2 linked regions of the Homo sapiens genome follow. The protein of the gene in region 2 purifies or fractionates together with the protein of the main gene of each other region. This does not show direct contact. Each region holds a gene or a part of one and is shown on either strand. Other genes may lie near its edges. The genes, in order: SPICE1 and MEFV.

What was found.
Region 1: the proteins of MEFV (region 2) and SPICE1 purify together in Homo sapiens (affinity purification with mass spectrometry; one large-scale study listed by BioGRID and IntAct). This does not show direct contact.

Annotation. Positions count from the first base shown.
Region 1 is NC_000003.12:113,463,119-113,466,947, forward strand, and holds part of SPICE1 (spindle and centriole-associated protein 1), read right to left. Parts: intron 2,667-3,829; coding exon 2,535-2,666; intron 1-2,534.
Region 2 is NC_000016.10:3,241,198-3,244,080, forward strand, and holds the end of MEFV (pyrin), read right to left. Parts: intron 2,871-2,883; coding exon of another isoform or gene 2,696-2,870; coding exon 2,663-2,695; intron 2,498-2,662; coding exon 1,944-2,497; 3' UTR 830-1,943; downstream 1-829. UniProt on the Homo sapiens protein: Involved in the regulation of innate immunity and the inflammatory response in response to IFNG/IFN-gamma.

The sequences.
Region 1 (3,829 bases), on a different chromosome or scaffold from region 2:
CTCAAATGTCACTTCCTCAGACAGGCATGGCCCATCTCATTTGTAACTGCATCCTACCCCATCCTATGCATTTCCTGTGCCTTTATGTGCTTTATTTTTCTTCAAAGTACATATCACCATCTAACTTACTATACTTCAACTTTTTGTTTTTAGGATTTATTTAGAATGTAAGCTCCATGAGGGCAAAGTTTTCTATATTTTGTTCACTATTCTATTTCCTGTACCTAGAACAGTACCAGGCCCACAGCAGGTGTTCAACAAAGATTTGTTAAGTAAATTAGTACATTTTAAAACTGCACATCTTCCCAGGAGAATTAAACATATGTTCTGCAAAAATATGTATATGAATGTTCATAGCAGCATTATTCATAACAGACAAAATGTAAAAATAACCCAAATGTTCATTAACTAATGAAAGGATAAATAAAATATGGTATATCCATACAATGGAATATTATTGGGCAATACAAAGGAATGAAGTACTGATACATGCTAAACATAAATTAACCTTAAACATTATACTAAGTGAAAGAAAAGCACATATTACATTATTCCATTTCTATGTAATATCTATATTAGGCAAATACACAAACACAAAAAGTAGATTAGTGACTGCCAGGAGCTGGCAAGAAGAGAGAATGAAGAGTGACTTCTAAAGGGTACAGGATGGCCTGGCGCGGTGGCTCATGCCTGTAATCCCAACACTTTGGGAGGCCAAGTCAGGCAGATCACGAGGTCAGGAGATCGAGACCATCCTGGCTAACACGGTGAAACCTCATCTCTGCTAAAAATACAAACAATTAGCCAGGCGTAGTGGCAGGCGCCTGTAGTCCCAGCTACTCAGGAGGCTAGGACAGGAGAATGGCGTGAACACGAGAGGCAGAGCTTGCAGTGAGCTGAGATCATGCCACTGCACTCCAGCCTGGGGGACAGAGTGGGACTCCGTCTCAAAAAAAAAAAGAAAAAGGGTACAGGATTTCTCTCTGGAGTGAGGAAAATGTTCTGGATTTAGATAACAGTGCTGGCATACAACTTCAAACATACTAAAAACACTGATTTGTACATTTTAAAAGGGTGGAGGACTTAATGGTATGTGAACTATATTATCAAATTTGTGTGTGGTTTCAGTTTTTTGTTGTTTTTTTTTTTTTTTTTAGAGACAGGGTCTCACTCTGTCACCTAGGGTGGAGTGTAATGGCAAAATCATAGCTCACTGCAGCCTCAAACTCCTAGGCTCAAGTGATCCTCCTGCCTCAGCCTCCCAAGCAGCTAGGACTACAGGCATATGCTACCATGCCCAGCTAATATTTTTATTTTTTGTAGAGACAGGTCTCACTCTGTTACCCAGGCTGATCTCAAACTCCTGGCCTCAAGTGATCTTCCCACCTTGGCACCCAAAATGTGGGGATTAAAGGTGTGAGCCACTGCGCCTCGCCCTATATTATCAATTTTAAAAAATTATACATCTACATCTAATGTCCATTAACACAAACATAATTTATCTTCTAACTATTACTTGTCTAGTCTCTTCTGGCTGATAAATAAAAGTAATAATAACCATCATATGAGAACAAAAAAGATGAATAAAATAGACTGTGTACACTCAAGAAGCATACAGTCTCAGTAACAAGTACACATATAAGTATAAAACAATTTGATAAATGCAATAATACCAATATCCAGACAGTATCAGAAGTGCACAAAGAAGCAAGGTGCAGTGGCTCATGCCTGTAATCCCAGCACTTTCGAGGGCCAAGGCGGGCGAATAGCTTGAGCCCTGGAGTTCGAGACCAGCCTGGGCAACATGGTGAAACCCCATCTCTACAAAACATAAAAAGTTAGCTGGGTATGGTGGTGTGCACCTGTAGTCCCAGCGACTTGGGAGGCTAAGGTGGGAGGATCACTTGAGCCCAGGAGGTCCAGGCTGCAATGAACTCATGCCACTGCACTCCATCCTGGGTGACAGAGTGAGACACCATCTCAAAAAAAAAAAAAAAAGTTCACAAAGGAAGAATGCTCAATGCAGCATGGAAGCAATAGGTTTTCCAGAAGAGAATGGTGTAAGTCTTTTAAAAAAGAAAAGGAGCAATTAGTCAAGCAGCAAAGAGGACTTTATGTAACAAATATGAAGATACTGTGAACAACTGTAAATGGCTCTGATATAATTGCAAAAGGACTCCTCAAAGGCTACCTTCTGCTGTTTTGAAATTAAAAGTGGCTGTCATAACACTCATTTCACATTTTGGATTAACTACTGTAACACTTGTAGTTATAATTTAAATGTAGACTCTGTCTTCCCACTAAATAGTAAGTCTCTTGAAGACAGGAAGACAGTCCATATACTACTTCCAAGCTTCTACTATAGTACTTCCATGTAATAAATGTTCAATAATACCTGCCACTGATGATAAAAATGACTGATAAGTAATCACATCGATACAGTTAAACCAAAAGCAACTCTAAGAGAATCCAGTACATGTTTAAAGATGTTTTATACCACTGAACACATAAAAATTGGGATCTCATCTGAGTACCTGTGTAGCAGCGTTTTCTTCTCTAAGACGAAGAATTTCAGCTGTCAGAGCATCAATGAGCTCTCGATGATCACCTAATACTTGTTCCAGTTGTTGCCTTGTCTCTACTTCTTTACGTAGCTGGATCTCACTCTACAAAAAAATATCAAATAAACTTCCACCAATAGCATCACATGTTGAAAACTAAAAGTTTGCACTCAAAGCTGGCAAAGAAGATATTTACAAAGAAGCATATATTATGTGACAGTAATGATGAAGAGTTTTATTAAAAGGTTTATTATATTTAATTAAAGAAAATGTGCTTCTTTATCCTCTTCCCTTCTTTAAATAGAATAAAATGAACTAAATGCTATATAAAATTAAGTAACTACATTTTTTGTAAAAAGAAAGTAGAGGGATATACATATACATATTATTTGAATATACACTGACCATCTCTAGAAAGATACACTGGTATCTGGAATGATAGTTGGCTATAAATAAGCAAACAGGCTAGCTGGAAGTTAGTCATGAGAGTTAGTACAATCTGCTGTTATCTTTGAATTTCATAATATGTGACTATATTGCCAATTCAAAAATTAAGCTTGTTAAAATATAATTTAAAGTAAATGACTACAACTTTAAATGGTTTAACTTTGTAAAACAAGTGATTAGCTTAAAAGTACACGCTTCTGGTCGGGCGTGGTGGCTCACACCTGTAATCCCAGCACATTGGGAGGCCAAGGCAGGCAGATTACAAGGTCAAGAGATCGAGACCATCCTGGCCAACATGGTGAATGAAACCCCGTCTCTACTAAAAATACGAAAATTAACTGGGCGTGGTGGTGCACGCCTGTAGTCCCAGATACTCAAGAGGCTGAGGCAGAAGAATCTCTTGAACCCAGGAGGCAGAGGTTGCAGTGAGCCAAGATCATGCCACTGCACTCCAGCCTAGCAACAGAGCGAGACTCTGTCTCAAAAAAAAAAAAAAAAGTACATGCTTCTAAGCCTGCAATACTCTCCAAGAGCCAAAAGTATACTCCTGAAGATTCCTGAGTTAAGGGTGAAAGAATGTTAAGGTTTTAATAGGTCTGACAATACAATGAATCTGTCATTAAAAAGTTAATTTTAGGGTCAGGTGCAGAGGCTCACGCCTATAATACCAACACCTTGGGAAGCCAAGGTGGGCAGATCGCTTTGAACTCAGGATTTCGAGACCAGCCTGGGCAACATAGTGAGACTCTGTCTCTACAAAAAAAATACAAAAATTAGCTGGGTGTGGTGGCATGCACCTGTGGTCCCAGCTACTTGGGAGG
Region 2 (2,883 bases):
GATATTTCACATTCAGGAACCATTTTAGGAATAACACAGGAGAAAAAAATATGTATATGGTGAGGTGGTGGAAAATATACACAAAGATATTCATGAAAAGCTTATAACAAGGGAGAATCGGGAATAAGACATGACCCACCGCAGGGAACAGCTAAGCCGTAGGTCATGTGAACTGTCCTGGGATGTGGATTACTCTTATAGAATAAAACTCGTGGAGGAAAGCCCAGCAAGTTTACCTGCTCTCATCATAGCCATGGAGTATCTGAGTCTAATCTACACTCTAGTAGTGAAGACAGAGGAGTTGGCATAGGAGTTTGGAATTTAATCTTCATTTGATTTTTTTCTTCTTACATCCACTTTTTGGAGACAGGGACTCACTCTGTTGCCCAGGCTGGATTGCCGTAGTGCAGTCTCAGTTCACTGCTGCAGCCTCGATCTCCTGCGCTCAAGCCATCCTCCCACCCCCATCCCTATGGCTAATTTTTGTATTTTTTGTAGAGACGGGTTTTCGCCACATTGCCCAGCTGGTCTCAATCCCTGGGCTCAGGCGATCCACCCGCCTTTGCCTCCCAAAATGCTGAGATTACAGATGTGAGTCACCATGCCCGGCCCCTTTACATCTCTTTAAATGAAGGACAAATGCACGGGATGTGTGTGAAGTAGAACCTAATATTCCACAACCCGCAGATTTTCCCATACAAACCAAGACAGAATAATCTGACACTTGGAATACATGCCAAATGTTTTTCCATACAGTAGTCCCATCTGCTTCCTGAAATGCAGTCGGGAAATGGGATTCCACAGTGATTGAGTGACAAATGCAAATGACCAGATTTTCTAATTTTTTTATTCATGAGGCCCAGTCAATTCTCTTAAGAATCATGGCCCGGCATGGTGGCTCATGCCTGTAATCCCTGCACTTTGGGAGGCTGAGGTGGGTGCATCACCTGAGGTCAGGAGTTTGAGACCGGCCTGGCCAACATGATGAAACCTCATGTCTACTAAAAATGCAAAAAATTAGCCGGGCATGGTGGCGGGCGCCTGTAATCCCAGCTACTTCGGAGGCTGAGGCAGGAGAATCTCTTGAACCTGGGAGGCGGAGGTTGCGAGCCAAGATTGCACCACTGCACTCCAGCCTGGGTGACAAGAGCAAAACTTTGTCTCAAAAAAAAAAAAAAAAAAGAATCATAGGCCGGGCACAGTGGCTCATGCCTGTAATCCCAGCACTTTGGGAGGCTGAGGCGGGTGGATCACCTGAGGTCAGGAGTTCGAGACCAGCCTGGCTAACATGGTGAAACCCCCGTCTCTACTAAAAATACAAGAAAACCAGCCTGGTGTGGTGGCACGCACCTGTAATCCCAGCTGCTCAGGAGGCTGAGGCAGGAGAATCGCTTGAACCTGGGAGGTGGAGGTTGCAGTGAGCTGAGATCGTGCCACTGCACTCCAGCCTGGGCCACAGAGCAAGATTTGGTCTCAAAAAAAAAAAAAAAAAATCATAGTTCATTAATCCAGGTACACAAATACTTCTATCCCAATCCAGTCTGCTTGCGTTTCTCTAGGCTTCCCATATCCTCAAGACAGAAGCAGAGAGAACAAGGGGACATATATCCTTGCCGTGGGGTTCTGAGGGAAAATGAGGGCCAAATCTTCTGTTCAGGAGCACCTGAGAGTGCCACCCACCAGGGGCGGATTATGCAACGACTCCGTACTTCCTCCTCTGAAATCCATGGTGTGTCATCAGTACATGTCTTCACCCGGATTGACTAACATGTTCGTTCCTAACTTACCTCTGCTATAATCGGGTAGGCTCCGTGGGCACAGTAACTATTTTGTTATTTTTGCATTTCCCATAGCAGCTAGCACCTAGTCGGCATTCCGTGACTATTGAGTGTGAATGCAAGATACAAGGCCAGAAGCAGGAAGAGAGATGCAGTGTTGGGCATTCAGTCAGGCCCCTGACCACCCACTGGACAGATAGTCAGAGGAGCTGTGTTCTTCCCTCCATCACGTGTCCCAGGGCTGAAGATAGGTTGAAGGGGCCCAGAGAAAGAGCAGCTGGCGAATGTATAGATGTGGGATCTGGCTGTCACATTGTAAAAGGAGATGCTTCCAACTCTGTAGTCCACGAAGATGCCCACACGCTTGGGAGGCTCCTTTATTAGCAGGCGGGTCGGGGGAACGCTGGACGCCTGGTACTCATTTTCCTTCATCATTATCACCACCCAGTAGCCATTCTCTGGCGACAGAGTCATGTTCCCTTTCCTGCTTATGGATGTCTTGCAGGCTCCCAGGATCCATGCTGTCTTGTCTCCAACCTCCACCTCCCAGTAACGGCGGCCAGAGAGGAAACTCGGAGAGCCCAGAACAATGATACAGCTGTCAAATCTTTGCGGGCCATCAGGCAGCCTCTCCCACTTGTTTCCAAGTCTAACACTCTTCAGATCATCAGAGAAGATGAGGTTGGGGTAAGCGGTTTCTGCATCCAGAATCACATTAACTGCAAAGAAAATTTGAATACCTAGGTAGGGGTCCATGGGCAACATCCCTACAGGGTTCTCCCCACCTGCAGGAAACAGGGACAGGGTAGTTCTTCTGGAACGTGGTAGGGGAGAGCACAGGGATCCAGCAGGCCAGGGCCACTTGCCTTGATCTGGGCACTTACCAGCATGTGCCTGAGCGCCAATCAGCTCCGGAACTACGGAGAAAAATCAGATAGGGAAAAAAATCCTGAGCATTAGCATTAAGAGGGGCTAAATTACACTGTCCTGACAACAAGGAAAGACAAGGAACCCCCTGCTTAGGGCCCTGCATGCTATGTTGGGTATAATCCCGTTCCTCCCAGGAACCCAGGCCATGTTGGGGACTGTGGTCTAATGAGTCAAC